Homo sapiens: one gene and its partners. The protein of the gene in region 4 purifies or fractionates together with the protein of the main gene of each other region. This does not show direct contact. Each region holds a gene or a part of one and is shown on either strand. Other genes may lie near its edges. The genes, in order: NAPG, STX18, VTI1A and BET1.

What was found.
Region 1: the proteins of BET1 (region 4) and NAPG purify together in Homo sapiens (affinity purification with mass spectrometry; 2 studies listed by BioGRID and IntAct, with this or other methods). This does not show direct contact.
Region 2: the proteins of BET1 (region 4) and STX18 purify together in Homo sapiens (affinity purification with mass spectrometry; 4 studies listed by BioGRID and IntAct, with this or other methods). This does not show direct contact.
Region 3: the proteins of BET1 (region 4) and VTI1A purify together in Homo sapiens (affinity purification with mass spectrometry; 2 studies listed by BioGRID and IntAct, with this or other methods). This does not show direct contact.

The regions. Positions count from the first base shown.
Region 1 is NC_000018.10:10,550,027-10,553,264, forward strand, and holds the end of NAPG (gamma-soluble NSF attachment protein), read left to right. Parts: intron 1-50; coding exon 51-194; 3' UTR 195-2,738; downstream 2,739-3,238. UniProt on the Homo sapiens protein: Required for vesicular transport between the endoplasmic reticulum and the Golgi apparatus.
Region 2 is NC_000004.12:4,532,027-4,539,078, forward strand, and holds part of STX18 (syntaxin-18), read right to left. Parts: intron 1-7,052. UniProt on the Homo sapiens protein: Syntaxin that may be involved in targeting and fusion of Golgi-derived retrograde transport vesicles with the ER.
Region 3 is NC_000010.11:112,443,330-112,450,251, reverse strand, and holds the start of VTI1A (vesicle transport through interaction with t-SNAREs homolog 1A), read right to left. Parts: upstream 3,038-6,922; 5' UTR 2,879-3,037; coding exon 2,785-2,878; exon of another isoform or gene 2,680-2,784; intron 2,473-2,679; exon of another isoform or gene 2,469-2,472; intron 1,871-2,468; exon of another isoform or gene 1,763-1,870; intron 1,371-1,762; exon of another isoform or gene 1-1,370. Other genes in the region: palmitoyltransferase ZDHHC6, read left to right, coding at 4,816-5,082, 6,646-6,737. UniProt on the Homo sapiens protein: V-SNARE that mediates vesicle transport pathways through interactions with t-SNAREs on the target membrane. These interactions are proposed to mediate aspects of the specificity of vesicle trafficking and to promote fusion of the lipid bilayers.
Region 4 is NC_000007.14:94,001,330-94,008,633, reverse strand, and holds the start of BET1 (BET1 homolog), read left to right. Parts: upstream 1-4,278; 5' UTR 4,279-4,417; coding exon 4,418-4,436; intron 4,437-7,304. UniProt on the Homo sapiens protein: Required for vesicular transport from the ER to the Golgi complex. Functions as a SNARE involved in the docking process of ER-derived vesicles with the cis-Golgi membrane.

The DNA of each region.
Region 1 (3,238 bases), on a different chromosome or scaffold from region 4:
GTTAGGATTCTAGTTATCCAGCTTTTAAGAACATGTTCTGTTGTTGACAGTATGCTAAGCTGGGCCTGAGTTTGGTGGTTCCAGGAGGGGGAATCAAGAAGAAATCACCTGCAACACCACAGGCCAAGCCTGATGGTGTCACTGCCACGGCTGCTGATGAAGAGGAAGATGAATACTCAGGAGGACTATGCTAGTATTTTGCTTGCTGAAAAGAAAAGGGAAACAAAGGTAAAATCCTGACATGCCATTTCAAGGACTTGGGAATAGATTAGGGATATCCGTACTTCATTACAGTCATGATTTTGGATCCTAATAAAGACTAGTTTTTAGTTACCATCTTCCCAAATCACTCATTGTATCCATTACCTGTGAAGCATATCTTTTTCTTTCCATAAGAGCTTTTCTAAGACACCAGCAGGAATTAACAGAAAATGTACTGTCATGTTTTAATACATTGATTAAAAAATTTGCAAGCCAAATTATACATAAATTATGTTCTAAACAAAAGGGGTAATAAGCATAGGTATTCTCTCTTGGACACTTGTAAGTTACTGTTAGTGAATTGTTTTTTACGTTTCATTTAATAATTGCTGCTAAAGGTGATGTTTACTGATAAATCATTTTAAAATTTTTTTGTTTTGAAAAGTAAATTTATCCCCCATGATGTTAGATACATTTAAATTATTAAGTCTTTTCAGAGATGAGATGGGGACAGGAAGTTATTTTGAGCCTTACAATATTATTTAGCCCAATAAAAGATGCATTGAAGCTCTTATATATTATGAGTTTGAAAAATTTTGAAGGTAGCATATTGAAGTGATCTATAAATATCTTCAGTCCTCTCTGAAGTGTGGGTATTTCTTCTATCTAAAAAATACATACAGTGACTGTCTTCAAATCTACTTGGTTCTTGACCAAATAGGAGCTAATGGGTAATGAATACCTTTTTGTTTGTTTGTTTGTTTGTTTTGTTTTTTGTTTTTTTTTTTAAGGGTCTCACTCTTTTGCCCAGGCTGGAGTGCAGTGGCACAATCACGGCTCCCAGGCTAATGTTTTTATTTTTAATTTGTAATTTTTTTTTTATTTTTTTTGTTGAGATGGAGTTGCTCCATGTTGCACAGGCTGTTCTCAAACTCCTAAGCTCAAGCCATCTGCCTGCCTTGGCCTCCCAAAGTGCTGGGATTGTAGACATAAGCCACCTCACCCAGCCTATGAATATCTTTCTAACATTGTAAGAATGAGGTAATGTTTCCATCAGTCTAATACAGATATATTTCTTCCCTCCAAAACAGTTTATTTTGATTGTTTATTTTATTTTGATTGTAACTCCGTCATAACTTGACATGGAAAATGCTATATACTATGAAAACTTAGCTGAAAGGGAAGAATTGTTTTAGAAAGACAATATTTAAAACACCGCACTGCCAATATATTGATCCTTTATAGTTATTTCCTAAAATGCTGTTTTCGAAACATTCCTTTTTCACCCTGTTGTGTGGCTTAGACCCATCTCGTAATCTGTTAATTGGAAAGAGGCTACAGACACCAGCAGTGTGCGTTCTGCAGGTACACGCTGCCAAAGTAATTCCTGCTCATCCATGCCCTGTCTCTGTCTCTTTTAGAGTCATACCTTATTTGAGTATAGGTTGCTTAATTTTGCTAGACTTCCTGAAAACACTAAGGTGGAGTATCAGAAGTGATTTTAGTCACAGTTCTGCGGGAGAGCTTAGAATAACATCCTCCTTTGGGAGGTGGTCTCGGGTGCGTGGATGTTGGTATACAGTCTTTATTGTAAGTCTGATACAAAATGCTAATAAATTTAATGTTTTTCTTCCTTAATTTATTGGCATAGTTCTTCAGGTAGCACCTCATTTTTATTAATGATATTGGGATTAACTATGAACAAGCTATATGTAGACATTTGCATTTAAGGACATTGCAGTGTTTCAAAGATCCCATCATTGCAGCTTGTATCCTTTAGATCCAATCGGAAACTTCTGGAGTCTTACATTAATGCTCATTTGAGCTAATTAGTAATCTGTTTAAACAGATTTGGCAATACTTTAAAGATACTGTAGACTATTTATGTATAGATAGATCATATTACCCATTAAAGTCTGGGGGAAAAAATTTTTTAATTTTACTCTTCTTATGTACTGAAAACTTTTTTTAAAAAAGGTGATGATGAAGTGCATTCTGTAGCAGCAGCGCAGCTATGCTTTAAACCACACAAAAGGCTGTGTCCAGGTGCAGCCTCCTTCACCCTTCCTGCCCACGGTGAGGATTGAATAACCAGGACTTGGGGATATTGTTTGTTGTCAGGGTTATTCTGTGTGGTAAGGAATATTTGTTTCACATTTATACATTTTCTTTTTCCACTCACGTAAGTTTCTATCTTGAGAGCATAGTCCAAAGTGCAAAACTTGGTGTTTACAAGGAAAATTGTCTTCCAGAACTCCACTGTCATCACTTTCACCAAAGTGGAAGTTTGCATGAATATGCTCAGAATCTAATATTCAATGTTCTGTTACATTGTAAGTGAAGTCCAGCTACAAAATAGATTTAATATATTGAATTTATTTGTACATATGCAGAGTACGGTATTTCTGTATGGAATCTGCTTTATTCCTATTTTTCCCAACTCTGATGAGTAGAATATTAAATGTGTTGTTATGGAAATACAGATTATTGCTTCTATAGGAAGATAATTATGAAAATAAAACCTGAAACTATATAAATATAATTGTTCTTTGTATTATTTATTTTGTTTAGCTTGTTTTAATTTTCTTTTTTCCAGGGACACATTCTCTTAATTATATGACTTCAGCATTATTTTACAAGGACAGTATTTTGTTATCTGCAGTTGTCTTTTCTGCTCTTTGGGAGTAAGGTACCTTTGGGAATTTAAACTGTTTGAGCTTCTTAAAATACCAGTCATTCAGTTATTGTAATACTACATATACTGCTGTTTGGTGAGATGAAAGACTAATACCTCTTCCAAGAGAGTAATTCTTTGATTGGGTTAAGTGAGATAAAACCATGTATGATTAGGAGGCTAAGAGAACTGATGTGAAATTGTTTACATAATTAGCACCTTAAATACTAGCAGATTTACTTACAATCAGACATTTATTGGATGCTAACTATGTAATATTATCCCTGTCTTTCATGGAATGGAAATTAATAATATAATTTGATACCTGGATTCAGGAGAAGTTGAAGTAAGAAAGAATGCAGA
Region 2 (7,052 bases), on a different chromosome or scaffold from region 4:
GCAGCCAAATAAACTGGTGGTAAGAGCAATACATACTGATATTTAAAAATTTCCAAAATACATTGTTTTCTACAATACTGTTATGTAACCCCTCTCTACTCCCCCAAGGAAGAGGGGAGGGCATATGGAGAGGGATTACATAACCGTATTGTAGAAGAATCTTGATTTTATTTAACAGAAAAAATGTTTGGAAAGTTAAACACCAGAATTTTAACTATGGCTATTTCCTGACACTGGTACTAAATGTGAACTATTTTCTTCTTTATTCTGTTTAATGAGCACTTACTAATTTTATAATCAGATTTTAAAATAGTCAACTTCAAAAATGTGCCCTGCTAATAAAATTCCATTATAAAATTATATCACCACTTTTAAATCAAATACATTTGTGAAAACACACCAAAAATGCTAACTTTGAAAACAACAACAACAACAACAAACCAAAACAAAAAAAAAACCTCACTCTTTCAGAGACTCAGGGAAAATATCACAAGGTAATGGGCAGTTATCACTGCAAAAAGTATTTAAAAATACATCCTGGGACTTTCAGATAAAGAGTACTGAGTCATGCAACCATCTCATTGAAAAGGTCCTTATGGATTATCTAGTCAAAACCTCTCATTAAAAAAATCAGAAGAGTGACACCCAGAGAGGTTAGGTGAGTTCTCCAAGATCACATAGTAAGCTATTGGCAAAGGCCAAAAGTATTTACAATTCGAAACGTACACTTTTTAATTCCTTTCTCAATTCCTCTGAGTTAAGATATGCTGTAGCCTGTTACTTCTGCTAAGACTATAGAATTCACTGCTGGAGAAAATGTCCAAGAAAAGGCAAGTGTTCATTTCACCAGAGTTTTCTTATCATTTGACTACAAATTAGATAGAAATGTTACAATATTGTGAAATGGAAGTGTCTCTCTCTTGGTTAAATACAGCTTACAAATTCCATGGTAAGAACATTTTGACAAACAGACATATGTTAGATGGTGATAAGTAGAAGCTGGCAAACTTTAGTATTCATAGTCTTTGAGGATCTGAAAGTCTGTAACAAAGAAAAAAGTATTGCCGGGTTTAAAATTTCAACTGTGCTGCAAGCTTTCCATATCTGAGTTATTGGGTTCATTCAATATATCATACTTTCATTCCTCTGGTTTATTCACTTTCTTTTAGAGGAGTTTTGAAGTTGCCTCTTTTTAAGTCAATATTAAATGTAATACGCTTTAAACATAAAATGGTTTTCATACCATAAGCCATAATTAACATGTGTAGACTTCACTGATACTTTACCCACCAGAGGGAGTCCATGTGGATTTCCATGTAGTAAGAGACGTCAAACATCAAGTTTACATGAATTCAACAACCACATTATTCATAATACAATCAATATTATAAAATCACTCAATAATATATTTCTATCCCCTGAAAAAGAGAAAAATTAAATGAGATCGGGCACATAAAGTCCTTAACCGAGTTCCTGACCTATAGCAGAAGCTCAAAAATGACTGAGTTTCCAAAATCTGTATTCTTCTGCACATTAGTTACAGTGCTTACAACAAATTAACTGGTATTCTGACTTACACACAAGTTGACGTGAGCTTGGCTGATATCTGCCCTAACAGATGGCTCTAGCCTCAATATGTAGAAAAATCTGGTTCTTGGGCCTCCAAAATGAAGCCAGCCCCTGATGGGAAGAATTCACTAAAAACGTCACACTGAGAAGACGTGTTTCTGCAGCCCTACCCTAGTAGGTGAGACACATAATAATTGGTCAACTGCCAACTCAAAAGTGAGGAAAGAGGGAACTCTTTGACACACTCCAGATTCTTCATGGAATGCAGGAGAAAATGAATCAACTATCCCTGAGAATCATGCTTCTACAACATGTGATATAATCATTAACCCCAAGATGAGTTTCATTCAAGAATAAAGAAAGCAGAACTGAGAATAACAGGAGAGAACCTGGCATCCACACGGGCCATCCTAAGTTTCTACCTCCTTGTACTTCTCGCCACCATAAGTCCCAGCCTAGTGATGGCCGTATTGCTGAGACAGGTCTCAATCTCCATGCAACTGGCTGGGCATAGGTACATAGGCACTGGGTATCTATTTTGTACTCAACTGTCTCCAAGGTCTAAATGTGGCAAAGCTGAAGGACCCCATTGAGTTCCTCAATCCAGGTTTATCAGTAAGCACTGCTGCTGGGGAGTTATCCACCACATGCTGTCTTAATAAAACTCCAGTGTCCATGGGCTCCTTGGATCTATTCTCTACTATTTAGAATTAAGAAGAAGGCATGAATAACTGGCACTCAACTCTAACCCTGAAAACTCTGTTATTGTAATCTTCTACCATTTAACTTTTCAACCAGAAAGCTGGAAATTATTCTACCTCCTCCTCTTTCTATTTCCACTAATTAGTTACTAAGTTTTACTAAGTTTGTTGAGCCTACCTACTAAATACTAAATACCTACTTCATCTATTTTTCTCCCATCCAACCCTACTGTCACCGGCTCCTCAGTTTCACCTGAATTACTGCAACAGCATCCTGCTTAGCTCTCCATGTCAGTCTTGTTACATTCCAAACCCATCATCAACACTGCGGATTAGTTTAAAATACAAACATGATCCTTTCGTGCCTCTGCCGCATAGCCCAGAGCATAAAGTACAAACTCCTCAGCACTGCTAACAACGCTCTCATCTAAGAGTTGGCAAACTTTTTCTCTAAAGGGTCATACAGTAAATATTTTAAGTTTTGCAGGCCTCTGCAGGCTATCGCTCTGCTGCTACAGCATGAAAGCATTCTTGGCCTATATTTAAACAAATGAAAATGACATATTCCAATAAAACTTTATTTACACAACTAGGCAGTGGGCCGGATTTGGCCTGTGGGCCAGTTTGTGGACCCCTGCTCTAACCTACTTCAGTACAACCTCACCCCCTGACACTCTGACCCTCACCCGGGCCTCCTCCAGAAAAGGGCTCTAGTCACACCAGTCTTGCCTCTGGCCCCAAACTGCCCTACTGTTGTGTGCCACTGCCTTTGCTCACACCCATCCCTTCTACCTACGTCTGGTGGAATGGTTTTTCTCCTTAAAAGCCAAGTTTGATGATCACTTTGAGGTTTCCACTGATTCTCCCCTAAAGAGATTTAGGTATCCTTTATCTATCTTTTCAAAGAACAGGTTAATATGCCTCATAGTTTTTTTATGGCCCCACAATGCCTGACACACCAGATGTTCAGTGTTTATTGGATGATGGTATAAATCAATTATTGAATAAATACATTTCAAAACTTACAGTCCTCCTAAGTCTTGGGCAAAATTCAGAAGTGTAATCCACACAAAGGACTCACAATCTCATGAAAACTCTGCAGTGCTGAGCTCTCCTTATAGTACACACTCAGTTATTGCAATCCATAAAAACACAGCATCATGAAGCTAAAACAGGCCCTGGAGAGCATTAAAGCAGTGGTTTTTAAACTGTGTGTCTCTGGGCCCTCTGGTTGGTTCCTAGGGGTTCCTCAAGGAGAGGGGGAAGGTAACAGAAGGGTAGTAGGCTGGCGAATGAACCTCTCTCCCCAAACCTCTCACTCCAGCTTTTACCAAAGCTGCTCCTTATTTCATTAGCTAAAAGGTTCCTGCCATATTTAAAAAGAAATCTATATGATTCAGCACACTCATGCTCTGTTCACAGCTTGCATTCTAAACCTCCATTGTTTCCCAATCCTACTTCTGTATGGTTTGGCCCTATCTCCTGTCCTTCCTGCCTCTCATGGACTCACTGTACCTGTTGCATGATACTGCTTCTTTGAATCATGCTCCCTCAACTGAAATCCCCTAACTATGATTATACTCAACCCTTAGGTAAAATTTATAATCCAGGTGGTCCCAGCTCAACCTTTGGGTCCCAACACTGGCACAGAAAGTCAACACTGCCTCTGAAAAGGAAATCAAGGAGGACCTGGGGAATCAATGCTAAAAAAGTTACAGTTGTTACTCATACCTGAGTTGTTGTGCTACCTGTGTCTGCTTTTCCACTAGAATGTAAATGTGTTGAGGGAGGAACGGAATCTTAGTAATAAAAGCTACTATTTACTGAATGTTTACTCTTAATACCGGACTAAGTATAAATGTGCATCATGTAATATTCAAGAATCATGTGAGTATCACAGAGCTTTAGAACTGCAATGAGCCTTGGACAGAGATCACCTAGCCCCAAAACTGAGAGAGACAGTAGATTAACAGTTATTCATTAATTCAAGAAGTATTTATTAAGCACCTGCATCCCCACACTGTTCTAGAAGCTACAGATTCAGTGCTAACAACACAAAGTTCTTCATTTTCAGAAAACATATATTCGAGTAGACAAACAACAAATAAATGGATATATGATCTGCTAGGGGAAGGGACAGAAAAAGGAGGCCACTTTACGCAGGGCATTCAAGGAAGGCCTCACGGAGGCAACATTTAACCAGAGACCTGAGGAACTGAGAGATCAAGCCATATGGAATCTAGGAGAAAAGTGTTCCAGGTAGAGGGATGCAAAGGTTCTAAGCGGGAAATGTGCCTGATGCATGTGAGAAAATGAAAGAGGCCAGAATAGCTGGAGTAGAGTGAGCAAAAGGAGGGGGAGAGGAGGTGAGGCCAGAGAGGGAGCAGGGCCAGATCATCTGGCTTTGGGCCACTCCAAGAACTCTGAATTTCAGCCAAAGATTCAAGATAATCAATTCCTAAAAATAAGTAAATAAAAAACGAAGTTTAGCTTCCACAAAAGAATGTATTATCAAGAACAAAATCTCATCTGCATGCCTAATCTGAAAATAGAGTTCCCAGCAATTCAGGATCATTATTACCTTATTTAGAATCAAAGTGTCCTTATTCTACAAGAAATCTCTGCAGTTATCTAATCGAAGCTTTCAGTTTTACTAATGTGGAAACTGAGGCCCAGAGAAATCACATGAGCAGCCCACTTACTGGCAGACCTGCGGCTAGAACATGGGTTCCTGCTTTCCTGTGCGGTGCTCTTCAGTAGCCCCTGCTGCCTCTGCACAGCAGTTCGGTGCTTACGGGTTTCTTGCTTACCTGTGTGGTAGCCCCCCCTGGCTCCTGTAACCTTTATAAGTCAGTAAGAGAATAGAAGAGCTGCCACTATGAGGCATCTCTAGGCCTATCCTCACCCCAGAACCTGTCATTATAAACTCCTGCATTTTCTAGTTTCTCATTCCCCACAGAGTTGAAGACAGCCAGGCAGGCAAGGTGAAGGCACATCAGGCACTGTCCCAGGCACTGTGAGGGATGTTTTTGTTGCTTTTGCTTGCCCAACATTCCTTACTCCCTATTCCCAGACAGGGCACTGCCTTTTCCATGATTCTGGTGGGGGCTACATAGCATCCAAGCCACCTATTAACCACAGATTGAGGTGGACATAGACCTGACCAATTAAAGAAACATTCCTCTGGCTATAATGACTACTGTAAGAGAGAGCAGAGGATCAAGCAGAACCAACTAGATTTCCTTCCTGGGCTTTATGGATAAGAGCTAGAGAAAGAAGCTCTATCCCTGAATTTTCCAGTTATATGAGCTAAGGTATTCCCACTTTGTTCAGGTTAATTTACATTAGGTTACTATTACTTGCAAACAAAAGAACTCGGACTCATGTAGGCACCTGCATACCTTTTCTTATTTCACCTAACAACTTTATAAGGTTGCTATTACTCACTCTATTTTAGCCATAAGGTAACTGAAATTAAGTGGCTTCCCCAAGTTCATATAACAGATAAGACACATTCAAATCCAAGTCTTTCTGCCCCAGGTTCCATTCAGTATGCAGTATTCAGAATTAACTCAAGAAGAAGAAACTCACTGCCATTCAGAAACCAAACAAATTCTGGTTTAAAAATTACAGGAGAATGTAGTGGGCAGAGGGAGAGCAGCATTAAACCAGGTCAAAGGACCTGGCTTCTACTTATGGCTCTGTGCTATGACCTCAACTGCTACGACTTTGGGCAAGTAATTTCATTTATTTGGGTGTTAGTTTTCTTATCTATTAACAAAATGAACACAAGGTCCTTTTGAGTGAAAAAAAAAAAAACCACAAACAAACAAACATGGGTCTGCTTTAAGCATACAGATTCTACTGTTACTATATGTCAAGTAGATTTCAACTTGAATGTCAAGCCTAATAACAGGTAACGGCTCCTGGGGTACAATGTTGCAAAGGATTCTGAGCTATAGGGATCCACTAAGAAATTAGCACTGGCTTCCATGATCACAAGGAAGAAAAGAAAGTAAAAGCTGCATACCTGCCACACATCTGCCATCACTGAAAGAGTTTCACCTTGGCAAAGAAATGTTACCATCTTTTACGAATGCAGACAGTACTTCTGCACCACCGCTGATTCATCAGTACCTGCTCAGGATTTTCACTCATTCCTCACGCACTTAACTAAATTAAGGAATGAAAGTGCAAGAAAACTAAGTGGTTTGGAAAATACAGCTTGGTGCCACTAAAGAAAATATGTCTAAATGGCCTACATGAGGAGGGGGGAGGTAGTTTGGGGGAACAATAATAATCAGTCTGTTTTTTTAAAATACATACATATAGACTATGTGAGTAGGGTAACTCAGAAGCTACCCTACTTAGCTTGTGAGTTAAGTAGGGTATTATCACGTCCACTTTATAGAAATGGAAAACGAGAGTCAGACTTGCCCAAGTTCACCCATTTCTAAGTAGCAGAAGCGAGATTTGAACCCAAGGCCCAGGTCTCTTTCCAATCCCATCATCCTCACTAGTCCCACACTTCAAATGAGTTAACTAATCAAATTCCCATTGCAGAGTGACATATTCATTATTATTTGGAGTTGTTCGAATAATATAAGTTCCTCCCCCAAATAATCTGAAAAGTCGTTACTCTCCATTTGTAATTTAATGGGTAGACATGCATTTGAGTATATATAAATTTAGTAAAATTGAGCATAAAAGTTAAATGTTTAAAAGAATGATGCAGAAGCAATCAGCCTGTTGTTGGAAGGTAGGGACTGCAATAAAATTGCA
Region 3 (6,922 bases), on a different chromosome or scaffold from region 4:
AGGGGCAAGCACAAGTCATTATTAAGAGGGCAACTACTGCGTTTTTAAGAATTATGATCAGGCCAGGTGCGGTGGCTCACGCCTGTAATCCCAGCACTTTGGGAGGCCCAAGTGGGTGGATTGCGTGAGCCCAGGAGTTTGAGACAAGCCTGGGCAACATGGCAAAACCCCATCTCTACAAAAAAAAAAAATCAGCCGGGCACAGTGGCTTGAGTAGTCCCAGCTACTCGGGAGGCTGAGGTGGGAGTAGACTTGAGCCGTGAGGGAGAGGTTGCAATGAGCTGAGATTGCGCCATTACACTCCAACGTGGGCGATACAGCAAGACCCCATCTCATAAAGAAAAAAGAATTATGATTATTCAATAATACAAGTCAGTAAGCATTCTTCCAGAGCCAGCAATGCAGTCTCCTTTCAATTGTAATGAAGCTCCTGTGTTTGGGCCTTATATAATACTACAGCTAAGGAAAGACATAGTTTTTTTTTAATTTATTTATTTATTGAGACAGTTTCGCTCTTGTCGCCCAGGCTGGAGTGCAATGGCGCAATCTCAGCTCATCGCAACCTCCACCTCCCAGGTTCAAGCGATTCTCCTGCCTCAGCCTCCTGAGCAGCTGGAGTTACAGGCATGTGCCACCACGCCCAGCTAGTTTTGTATTTTTAGTAGAGACAGGGTTTCTCCATGTTGGCCAGGCTGGTCTCAAACTCCCGACCTCAGGTGATCCGTCTGCCTCGGCCTCCCAAAGTTTTGGGATTATAGGCATGAGCCACCGGGCTCTGCCCAGTTTTATTTTTAAGGTACTGAATTCAAAAAGTTTCCTTCTATGTGTTAAGAATTGTCACATTAAAATATAAAGGCAAGAAAAAAATTGTAACACGATCTGTTTTCTTGGAAATTTACAACTTTGCATCCAAGGATGATTTTGTTACCTTGTAAAACAGCTTCCCAATACAAAAACTAATAACCCAAAGAAATGTTTCTACTGCTAAAACAATTACAATTAAAAATGAGTAAAACTCTAACTGGAACCACAAGTCCTGATACTCTGAGGCTCTGGGACTCAATTCAAAGGAAGTAGTCTCCAACAATAACAAAAATCAAGACGATCTCCGGCAGTGGAGAAAAGCAGAACTGAAGAGAAGAGGCGAGGTGATGTATCATGAAGAGATGAGGCCATCAGCCACTTTCGACACAAAAATCTCTGAGGCAGCAGAGCTTGGTGGTATATACTACCTTGGTTCTCTCCTCTTGTTCCCTTACTTGGACTCATAAACCTCTTTAAGACATCATCCATCTCCTCCAGAACTAACTGGGGACTTCAGGAGATGAGTGGGGTATAAGTTCAGAGATCCTGGCTTCAAGCAAATATCCCTATTAACAGAAAATAGGTGAGGGGAAGAAAAACAAAGAAATAAGGGAAGAAAATTACTTATAAACACATAAGTTTTGGGGGAAGTAGGGAAAGGGAAAGAGGAATGACAACTTAGGTCCGGGAGAAATTATTGCTAGTACCAGGACAAGTGGGCAAGTGAAGTGCCCACCAATCCGCAGATTAATGAGCACATCCACCTTTCTACACTTTATATCCTGGAGCTAGGGTAGGGACAAGTCTAGCAGCCAGATGATGGTTCAATTTCCCTAACAAAACTAAACAAAAATGTAAAACCCTTTTCTGTAACTAACTACTCTAATCTGTAGAGAAAGATAGTCCCCGAATCAACATTGTACAAACCATAGTTACAAAAGATCATATTTATATTCACCTGCTCATTCACTTATTTTCCTGAGCCCCTAATAAGTAAACGCCAAGGAAATCAGACACAGCTCCCACCTTCACATAGTTGACAGTCTAGCATAGAAAATAAGATGTGCTAAAACACAAAAGGAAACACAAAAACAAAAACATTTCCAGATGGGAGATGTGAAATTTTTAAGTGTGAAAAATTATCTTGTACCAAGTTTTACATGAAACTGGGTTATACAATAAATCCCCAAGAAGGATGAGAAACAAGAAATGGGGGTGGGGGGTATGAAAAATACTAATGCTAATACAGCAACTAACAACACCAAAAGTGACTTTAAATATGTTATATAAATTTAATCTACCTAACAACCCCATGAGAGAAGTACAATTTTCCCCCATTTACTAAGAAGGAAAGTTGAAAGAGACTAAGAAGTCTGTTTAAGAGGCACAACTTTTATTTTATTTATTTATTTGAGACGGAGTTTCACTCTTGTTGCCTAGGCTGGAGTGCAATGGCGAGATCTTGGCTCACTGCAACCTCCGCCTCCCGGGTTAAGAGGCACAACTTCTAAGTGACAGAGGTAGGATTTGAATCTAGGCACCCTGATTCTTACCTCTATTTTGCCGCATATAATTATAACAATATTATTACTAACACAACAACGCCGCTGTAGATTGTAGATCCATAGGCTACATACTTTCATTCATTTTCTTTGAATACTCACATGTCTATAATTTACAAATGAAAACATTAAGACTCTTAAGACGTTAAGAAACGTTTCCAGGTTATGCAAGTTACAAGAAGGTAGAGCCGGGATTCGAACTCAGATGGCTCAGATTCCGAAGGCTCTTTTCACGGCACCCCACACCCGAACTTGACTCCTTACCCTCAACCAAGCCAAGCCGTATCCCTCCTGGGAACAGCCGGCACCACCCACTCCAGCCTCGCGCCTCATAGACACACTTACTCGGGCGGCGTTCCACCGCCCGCACCCTCCCAGCTCTCCCCAGCACCCTCGTCCAGCCGGGCAAGGCTCTCACCAGGCGGGAGTCGTGGGACCCTCGCAATCTTGCTGGTGATCTCTGCAGTGAGCACCGCGAAGTCCTGCTCGTAACCTTCGAAGTCGGACGACATGGCGGCTCCGGAACGAGTAGCCCAGGCCAAAGCCTAGGTCAGGGAAAGGGCCTCGAGGGGCAGCGAGGGGCCCCGCGGCTTAGGAACCCCGGAAGGTGCCCCCGAGAGCAGAACGGAGAACCGGGGACAGCTCTCAACCCAGCCGCTTCCTGGTTGTTCGTCGCAATCTCGGTTCTCCGGAAATTGGGTTGCGTGCGTGCTTTATTTTCCGCTCCGACTTTAAGATAAGTAAGTTCGCAAAGGAAAAGCGCCCCAATTAGTGCCTCCCCCCAGAAAAGCGTATGAAAATATGCAAGTTCTGAGGGATCATTAGAAGCGTTTTTTCCCCCCTTCGTGTTCTGGGAATCGGCTCCGGATCCACACGCTACAAGGCACAGCAGCTTGCTTCCGGAGGGAGGTTTGAGGCGGCGAACCTCCGGAAGTGACAGTAACAGAGACTGCGCAGGGGGCCTGAGCGGGAGAGTCCTGGCGAGGGCGCTGGCCGAGAGGTGCTCGGCTTGTAGCAGGTCCCGCACTCCAGCCTCTCGCTGCCAGGGTTTGCTCTCTGCTTGTCCTGGGCTGAGGTGTCCATGACGGAGTCATCCAAGGAGGAAAAAATCTGTTCCGGGTGAGCCCAGGCCGCCCCGGATATGCGATGGCTGAGGAGCAGACACCAGGGACCACACTGAGGTGGGAGTCAAGGCAGGGAATATAAGCACGATTTTGGTGGTCTTTGTCCCACCAGAGTGGGAGCAGGCTCTCCTGAATGTTGAGACCAACCTGGCTTACCAGGATATTTCTTCCTTGGGTGAGGATTTATTTCTAAGCCCTCTGCTCCATGACTCGGGCGGGAAACTGAGGCACAAGTCAACAGCGTCTGCTGCGTGGTAGTCTGTATTATCCATGTAGCTCAGATCCTCTTCCAGATCTTCAGATCCAGTCCAGGCAGAGATGCCCTTCCACAAATCTCTCCGGAGCTCGCCGCCCTGCCTTCCATTTCCCTCGCTCCTGGAGGCACTTCCTCTTCTTTCTTCCCTCGAATCTTCTAATTCAGGTTCTTCTCATATACTCTTCTGGTCATAATTTCACACACACCACACACACTCTCGCTCTATCTCCTCCCTTCCTTTCCTTGCATGCTCTCTTTGCTTTCACTGTCGCTCCTTTACTTTTGGGCCAAATTGACTGTTCTCTTGATGTTTGGGTGGCGGGGTGGAGGAGACTGCAGGCAAATGGCATAGACCATGTCTGACTCATACTTGGCTTAATTCAAGACTTCATAAGAGGCAGCTTAGAATTTCATAAAGGGAGGTCGTTGACTTGCCTTCTATTCTGGTTCACCTGTTACTTGTGACCTTGGTCTAATCACTCAGCCTCTCTAAGACAATTTCTGTTCTATGAAGAAGGAAACTGAATTAGATCAACTCTAAGGTCCTAAAATTCTTTGTCTTCTCAAACTATTCACTAAGCGTTGGATGGTGACAGTCCCCTGACAAGCGGAGAAGGAATAAAAAAAACTATTTTGGAATCGTGTATCCAGTTTGCATGCCATTCAAACTTGTACCATATTTTGGATAAGTCAAAAGTAGTTCTTTTTGACATTTGACAAGATATGCATCCCAAAGTGTAGTGCACTTGTGAGATGCTGTTGTGTAGGTGTTTATTGTAGTTAACAAGTATGGTATGCAATAAAGGTTTTGTTTTGTTTTGTTTTAACTGAACTTTCCCATTTTGTTTTCTTTAGGTTGGGTTTCAGACCAAGACACTGGATTCTCCTAGTTAAGATAAAGAGCTTTGGGTGCCTGACAGTGAAAATGGTGTAATCTGCGTTAACAGTTCACAGCTTGAAGGCATGACAATTAAAGAACACACATGGACTTGTGGCACATGGAAATGTGCGCACAGAAAAAGGAAATCTATAATTCTTTTAAAGTAGGAAGGCATTCTTCCTTGCCAAAATGGGTACATTCTGTTCGGTTATCAAGTTTGAAAATCTACAAGAATTAAAGAGACTGTGTCACTGGGGTCCCATCATAGCCCTTGGTGTTATAGCAATATGTTCTACCATGGCCATGATTGACTCTGTGTTGTGGTATTGGCCCTTACATACAACTGGAGGAAGTGTGAATTTCATCATGTTGATAAATTGGACTGTCATGATTCTTTATAATTACTTCAATGCCATGTTTGTCGGTCCGGGCTTTGTCCCTCTGGGGTGGAAACCGGTAAGAAAGATTCTGTAAGACAATGAACTTTAATGATAATCGTATATTTGGTTTTTGCCTTATCTACTAACCAATAATACCAAACACAGCCTACTGTTTGTCCTCACAGAGACTAAGTATATTACTCTAATCACTGATCATTTAGGCTCGGAGACTTTATTTCATATCTGTTTGAACACATTGATCCAAAATAGCATTTTCCAAAGCAATTTTATTGAATATTTGCTCTGCATTAAAAAAAAGATGGAGGTGGGGTGGAGGTGGGATAGGTTCATGGTCAAAAGTTTAGGAAACATCACATGTCATACACAGTGAGGTTTGGCTGTAGTACCTTTTTTCATGTAATACATTAACATCCCTTAGAACTGAGAAAAACGCTTTAGAAACTGCTGGTTTAAATCATAAAGTTTTAAAATCATTGCACTGAAAATATAACATTGGGAAGTATAGTCCAAATCCATTTATAGCTTAAAAACTACTGGGAAATTTATGCTTATGAATGTCCATGTTTCCTGCTAAGGGACCACACCTGATGGCTTGTCAGAAAGGCAGAATCTTGGGCTCCACTTCAGACATACTGAAGCAGAATCTTTATTTTAATAAAGTGCCCAGGTGATGCTTAGGTATATTAAAGTTCGGGAAGCACTGGTGTATATCATGTGCTATGTACTATTCAAAATGCGTACAGAGGAGGGTAAGATGTAATTTGAACTCTGAAAGAGCTTATAACCTAAGCAAGAAACAAACGCACTTGTGCAAATCACTAAACTATAAAGTAGAACGTGATGGGTGCTGTTAAAGTTAGAAGAATTGAGCATTGTTAGTTGGGGACCTGAGGGAGGAGTGGGAATTTCCAAAGGAGATGGGGAAGAGGGCATTTCAGGTTGAAAGAATGGTGGGACCACGTATTCAGAAACAGTAGACAGCCCTGTGTGACTGGGGAAAAGATCATGTAGGGCAGAGACAGCTGAAACAAAGGCAGATTGTGACAGTCTTAAATACATGAGAAATTGTAGACCATAGAAAGTTGTAGGGGTTTTCAGGCAGAGTCTGACACAGTCAGAGGTGTATTATAGGAATATTATTTTGACAATACACGGTTTGTGCTGAAGAAAAACTACAGTAAAGGAAACTAGTTAGGAAGTGATTAAAATGGCCCAAGAAAGGGGTGGTGACGGGTAATGTCAAGGAGGGAGCAGATTTCAGTAGGACTATCAACTCACGATTAACTCCTCACTCTAAAATACCTGCTAAGTTGTCAGCTACCTTTTTCTGAACTCCTGAATCCACTAAGATTTGGGGTAAGTAGAACCAACTAGTGACACTGAATTTAGGTGGAGCACAAGGAAGAAAAATTTAAAAGGACTTCTGGGTAATTGGGAAAGTGATGCTGCTCTTACCAGAAAACTTATTTAAAAATATTTTAGCTCAAATAAGAGGACTGGAAATGCAAGTTAAGATTCTCTCCTTCCCCTATCGCCCATAAAAGAAAATCATACCGTAGGAATCATACTTATATTCAAGTATCCGATGATGCATTTTTGTTTCTGTTTTGCTGCCAAGGAAATTTCTCAGGATACCATGTATCTCCAGTATTGTAAAGTCTGCCAAGCATACAAGGCACCACGTTCACATCACTGCAGAAAGTGTAACAGGTACCTGTCTTTCTTGCTGTTCAGCGAGGACTGATCAACTAATTACTGATGTTTTCATTGTTGCTTATACTACATTAGTGCTACTTCTATTCACTGCAAGGTTACCATATTATAAACAATATTGTCAGAATACTTGTGTCCATAATCGCCATTTTATACTTAAATTATCTAGATAATAAATAGAT
Region 4 (7,304 bases):
TACTCTACTCTCTTGCTTCCCTGTGAATTTCACTGCTCAATTTAAATGTTTCATTTTAATTCTATCTGTGGATATATATGTCCTCTGTATTCACTCATTCCCTCCTTTTTCTCTACCAATTATGGCCCTATTTCCTTTGAAAATTTCTTTCTGAGGACCAGGGCCAGGTTCAGGGGCCTGCAACCTTTGCAGTTGCATAAGGTTCCTTAATCAGAAGGCCCCCAAACTTGGCTTAATGCTCTGTGGTCACTGTCTTGAAATTCTTAATAATTTTACCTTTGGCCTTAAGTTTTGTATATAAAGTCTTATGGAACAAGAGATAGTGCCCACGATTGCAGGAGATATGTACAACATGCATTTTCATTGTTCTTTGCCACTTCATTTGAATATTACATTTGCAGTGACCCAGGAACACAGAATGCCAGTGGACCCATGACGCATGGGAGTTCAGAAACACTCAAAAAGAGTACAAAAGGTGTGTTAAGTTTGTGTCAGAATAAGTATGGACACTGACAGCCCCAAAAGGCCACGTGCTCTGCTTGAACCAGAACTTCTTCCACAGAAAGAAGAAAATGACCAAGGAACTCTATCACATACTTTTTTATCTTACATTGTTGTGTTAGCCAATTGTATTAAAAATGATGGCATAAAAGGAAAAGAATAGATAAGGCAACCCCTTGCTCTCTTTCTTTTAAGTCCCTCCTAACTCATCAGTAGGCTGAAGGTAGAATGTTGGTAGAGTATGTGCCTGTCAAGACATGAAATAAAATCTGTTGACTTAGTTTTGATGCAGTGTTTTGACTGCTCTGCCATGGTAAGAATGAAATACAGATTCATGTGTGAGGTATCTATTTAGGCCATTCTTGCATTTTTATAAAGACGTACCTGAGACTGGGTAATTTATAAAGAAAAGAGGTTTAATTGACACATGTTTCTGCAGGCAGTACAGGAAGCATAGTGCCAGCATCTGCTCAGCTTCTGGTAATGCCTCAAGGAGCTCTTACTCATAGCAGAAGGTGAAGCGGGAGAGGGCAGGTTACTTGGTGAGAGTGGGACCCAGAGAGACAGGAGGTGGTGCCACATACTTTTAGACATCAGATCTCGTGTGAACTCACTCAAGGGGATGGTGCTAAGTTATTCATGTGGGATCTGCCTCCATGATCCAAACATTTCCCACCAGGACTTACTTCCAACACTGGGGATTACATTTCAACATGATGTTTAGTTGGGACAAATATCCAAACCATATCAAAGTACAAAATACCAAATGTGTAATTTTAGTGATTTCACGAGTAGCGTGCTCTTATGTTTGCATTTAAAACTGTCATTGCACAATATAAAGATCAAGGGTAAAATTAATGCTAATAATTTATTTTTTTCTTTACTCAGAAGAATATTAAATAGCAAATAAAAACACCATGACAAGTTGGTGTGGGGAGGGGAGGAACGATGGTAGGGAGATTACAGAAGAAAACAGAAGAAAGAGAAGTTTTGTATCTTAATACCTTTAACTGAACTTTTCCCCTGTTTTCTGAACTAGAGGCACAACATTTTCATTTTGCCCTGAGCCCCACAAATTATGTGTCTGGCTCTGCTGAGGACTTTAAGGTTGGAATTGTGTGCCTAATTTTTACAAACTATGGCTGAAAAGCTTGCCATCAGTGCTAGTAATATTCCCAAATTATGGAAAAGACAGATCAAATTGGTGACTTTTTGCAAACTCCTTGAAAATATTCTTCGCATTCTTAAAACTTTTAAGTAAAACTCATTCTTTCTCAAACATGAATAACCAAAATAATTTTTAAACACTCTATTTCTTCTTTAATGGCTTTGCTTTATTTTATCACAAGTATTACAACATTATTTTCCTTCTATTGGTCTTGAAAATACGCGGTATTTCTGCTGTCCTATGGGTTACACAGACTTTGATTGGCCAGCATAGTAACTCTAACAGCCATGTGTTTTCTGGGCTGAGTTGGGAACCTGACCATCATTTCAGTCTTCAGGGAAAATGTGCTTTAAATACCAAACAACAAACTTAGAAACAAACTTTGTCCCATAGCTTGTTTGTAAATCAAGAGCTTTTTGTTTCTAGTTTACATTTTGTGACAGTTCAAATATGATACCCGAGATACTGAATTTGCTTCATGATTGAAAAATGTGTTAATGTTTATTGAACCAGTTTTGAGAGCTTGGTATGCTCTTTTCCCTTGGATTGGACTTGAAATTTGGTCAGGAAGAGGTAGGACAAATGGGCAGGCAGGAAGCAGACAGATAGGAGAAAGAAAAGTTCCAATTTTGCACCTCGATTCAGACATTTCCTGCTTTTATTCTTGCTTTTGTAATTACTAGAAGGAATACTTAATATTATTTTAAGTAATTTTTAGTCCTTTATCTCCTAGAGACCTACAAACATTAGATGTTTTCTGTGAGACTATCCTGTGAGAATAGAGAAGAGGTTCTAAATGCTATTCATCTCTGTGAAATTTATTTGCTTTCAATCAGTAAGAAAAGTTAAGGATTTTAATTTAAAAAGGAAAAAGCACAACGAGAAAAGTGAAAATGATTCCCTCTGATCGCTAATGTCAACTATGGTCACATTTAATAATTCTTTTTCTGCACATTGAGTTCATTTTTCCTGCCTCTTCCTTTGAGTGCAAATTTTTTTCAGATGACATTATCCTAATTTGATACTAGCAACGTTAGCTAAAAACAATAATTGGATTTTTTAGGTAACAACTTCAATATGAACTAGCTTTGCCTTACTTCAGTTATATTCTTAGTACATTATATATGTTTTCCTTTTAACTACATTTCATTCTTATGTCTTCCTACCATGTAAAGGAAGCAGTATATTTTATGTAATCTAAATGATTAGTTCTAGTAAATATTACCATATTTTCAAAAATAACGATTTCTACATTTCCATCAGCAAGCCTTCTGTAAGGCAATTTTTAAACGTTTTAATTATAGAACATGCATTTTTTTAACCAAAGGACTGTCACAGATTTTAAGTTATAAAGGGATACCTAGCTATCATTTCTTTTATTGAATCTCCATCTTTTATTTGTAATAATTGTCCCTGATATTATGCTTATTTAATTTCATTGCTTTTAGAAAATGGCGGTTTTATTTTAATGATTTTTTTCTATCAAAACACTATTGGATAAAGCCTCCTTCCCAGGTTAATAACTCTTATTAAAAATTGTTTTCATGTGTTTTTTACAAAAGCAACTTAACGCAGAGACTTATGCCAGTATTATAGTCAATGTTAATAATGTCCTGGGAAACTATGAGGAAACGCTAAATGATCAAAGATCACATATTCGGAAATCTCTAGTGTGGAGACGATTCCACTGCCATATATACAGCAGCAACAACAAAACCGCAGACACCCAGTGAATTTTGATCACCTACTGTGTATCAGGTTTTTTTGTTTTCCCTTCAAAAACCACGATTTCATCGTATTCTCACGATAAATCCTCTGAGATAAAATGAAATTCTAGGATTAACCTCGATACCAGTAACACCTCCAACTCGCCAACAAGTTTTAAACCCCTAATTGGCACACTGCCTTGTGTAAGCAGTATTTCAATAAGCTTTGTGTAAGTTAAAAAAAAAAAAGTGGGAGAGCGTTTAGGGGTCCTTTGGTCCCCATAACAACTAAAAGTCTTGGTTCTTTCTAGAAGTACAACAGATGCAGTAACAGGGAACTAACTATTCAGTGCCTCTGACCAGATCCCGCAGCCTTTCCTAGTCTGCTCTCATCTGAGCAGGAGTCCTACTCAAAGGAACCTGGTTTTCTTTCCTTTACTGGATACTACAAGGCACAAATCGGTTACTTCTGTGGGTGTCGGATTACTTGTTTGTAAACTGAGAAACCTGGACAAAGTTTTCTCTAACTTTCCCTGAATCGTCTCTGGAGGTGAGAGGGAGTTCGAGGCTAAATCAGGAAAGATACCCCAACCATCCTCTTGTGGGTGGGGAGGAGCAGATCTGCTGGGTTAAACTTGGTGGTCAACAAACTGAAAGCAGCGACCCGCGGGCTGCGAGCGGAACAGCGGGAACGTTGGATCAGAGACCCAGAATCAGAGCCGCAGTCGAAGCCGCCCCCTTTTCCGGACGCCCCGTCCGCTCCTGGAACCGGGTTCACATCACGCCCTCAGCAACACGTTATGCGTTGGTGAACTACATTTCCCAGAATGCCTTTCAACCTTCTTCCCAGGGCTCCAATGAGCGCCGTGGTGACGCCATCATCCGGCGCGGTGTTTAGACTCCACTGATGTCGTGGCGCTTTAGGGGAAGAAGTTGGTGTTTCGCTGGGCCCTGGTACTGAAGACGCGGTCCGGGTCGCCCCTAGCTGTTTCCTACTCACCCAAAGCCCCGCACCCGCCTTTTCTCTCTCTCCTCTGGCAGGATGAGGCGTGCAGGCCTGGGTAAGAAGAGGGCTGAGGTTCGAAGTTCGGGGCCCTAGAACCGGGAGCGCTGGGGCGCGGGAGGAAATCGAACCTGTCTTATGTTCCTGGCATTTGGTCCAAAAAACAGGATGTCTAGAGGGGATCTTTGGGGTCCATGTCGAGTGGAAACACACCATTTGTCCCAGATCTTTGGAATTTCCTTAAGTTTGAGTCAGATTCAAGTTTGGATGGTAGGCTAGAGAAAGTAGTGGACTAGGGGTGGGTGTGTACAGGTGGCATCTCAGTGGTCGAGTGTTTTAGTGTTATTGACTGAGCGTGGTTATGGACGCTGCTATGTTTTCCAAAGCCCGACTCCGGTTTCTGTTTCCCTACTGGCCCTGGATCTTAGTTTCTTCAGAAGCGGAATTTGAAGAGTGGGTGGTTGCACCCAAAGCACGCTAGTAATGGTCGTTAATCTGGTAACAGTGAGTTACAAAGGTAAATGTATGTGTCATTATTGTTAAAGGTCCTGGAACTGGAACTTCTGGGTCAAAGGCGATTTCTTAATCTGAACCTTGTGCCACGGTTAAGGCAGTAGAACGTGGTTAAGGTTTGGCGACTTAACATTTGATCTTTACCTTTGGGGTTAGGAAACTGGCTCATCAGCAAGAATAAGTTAGACACAAGGAATTTTAATGGACCCTTATAGTAACGCACAGCTACTAGAACGGCATTTTCTGGTTCTGAAGCTTTCTCTTAGGACACGATTTTTTTTTTAAAGAAGACCCCGCTAAATTAGAGTGCAGTATACTTCAGAAAATAAATGAAACATTTGAAAAAAGATATTACCTTTCTCAGTCATTATAAGATTGAAAAAAGAAAAAAAAAATCCCCAAAGTGTCAGATATTTAAAGTCAGTGAAAGTTGCCAATAACCGTAGACTTGTTTATTGATCAATAAATTGTAGTATGAGAAAGTTTTTTGTTTTTTTAATGAAGTTTTTATGAATACTTAGATCATAGAAAATGGGGCCAGGTAAATTGAAGAGAAAAAAAAAAGAAATAATTTTGAGCAAGTTTAGCTTTATATGTCTAAATGTTTTTCTTGTTCATCATCCTTAATACCAAAAAAGATTTATTGTGTGCTTGAGTAAGCTCTAGGTATACAGTTGTTTGTTGCCCTGTTTGTGATCCCCAAAGCTTCCAGTCTAGGTGGGGAGTAGGAATATGTGCAAAGATAAATTGTAGTACAAAGTGTCGCTATACATCCAAATACCAGATAAGTTCTACATATAAGGGATGGTCTCAGAGATTTCAGAGATAGATCACTGTGTACTTTGTGGGGAAGATCTTTGTGTATTTGGTGGAGACATAGGAATTTGAAGTAGACCTTGAATAATGGAGAGTGGGGGAAGTGAGTTCCAGATAGGAGGAACTCAAAAGAAGTAAGGGATTATGATTAAGCCAGTTTGGGTGAAGTAGGGGATTCGGGATCACACTGTGGAGATCTTTGCATGCGAGGCCAAAGAGTTTGGATTTCATCAGTAGGCCCCTAGGCCCTTTTGAGTATTTTCCTGCTGCAGTGTGCCATGTTAAATTGCAGGAAAGTGACTTGAGTAATGGTTCTCAGCCCTGACTGTACATTAGAATCCCTTGGGAAGTTTTTAAAGTATTGTTACCTGGACCTCAGCTCAGCCAGTAAAATTAGAATTTCTCCAATTTAGAGCCCACTACCTTCTCCTTTTTTCCTTTTTTTTTCTTTCTTTTTTTTTTTTTTTTAAAAAAAAGCTCTTCTGTGATTGAGAGGAGAAGTAATTACCTAGGTAACTACTATTGCTATAATTTACATTGGTGTGAAGTGACAAAGGCTTTTGTTACACATTTTTTCTTTTCTTTTTTTTTAAAGTATGAATGCATATTGACCTGAAATTTTAAATTTGGGATCATAGTGAATCTGATACATATCCATAGGCAGAAGCTGCCACACTTCACATGAATCTCTAAATGGTTTTGTTAGCTTACTGATAGAACCTATCCAAAAAAGTAGCGTTTATCTAAATAAACAAAGGCTGAGGATGATCTTCAGTACTCACTAGCTTTTTTACAACTTTTCATAGCAGTACACCACCAGAAGAGAAGTGGCTTTGTTTGGAATAGCAATTCTAGCATTTTATTTGGTTTTTACTTTTGTCATTGTATTTGGGATGGGTCATAGTTTGAGGGAAGATCAACTCTTTAATAGGAATGTGCATTGATATATTTCTGGACGATAAATACAACAAGAATTTCACTTTGAATAAATGGAACAGCATGGAAGAACTCTAAAATTAAAATTAAGATAGGCAAAAGCAACTAAACAAAGGAAAGAAAAAATAGCAGTTAATTTATAATGAATTCCTTGGTGAAGTTGTCAAATGTTTGAATTCAACCAGTCAGTAATTACTTATTGGGTAAATGTTATATACTCAGAACCTCAGCCACACAAAATAAGAAGACATTCTTTCTTTAAGTATCTTGGCCCTTATTAAACTACAGTTTGCACAGAGTATCATTGGTTAACAGAGTAAGAATGCATTTTTAAATGGTGATTTTAATATTTGACTGAGCGGAAAAATATGCCCACTCCTTGAGTTCTTTTATAATAAAACATGTGGAGAGCTTCATGGATAGTGTGTCATGGATAGTGTGTCAGCAGCAAAATTCAGATAGTACAACTCTCTTCTGTTTGGAAAATACTTCTTCAATATTTTGTTGTGGTTTTTGTGGTGGTGGAGATTGCATAGGTATCTGCTGCATATAAAGTACTCATTAGGTACAGGGAGGATATGGAAGCATGAGATACTGTCTTTGCCTTCAGAGAAGCATATGATTCCATTCTGGACAAAGGTATGCACATTCAAAGTTCAAT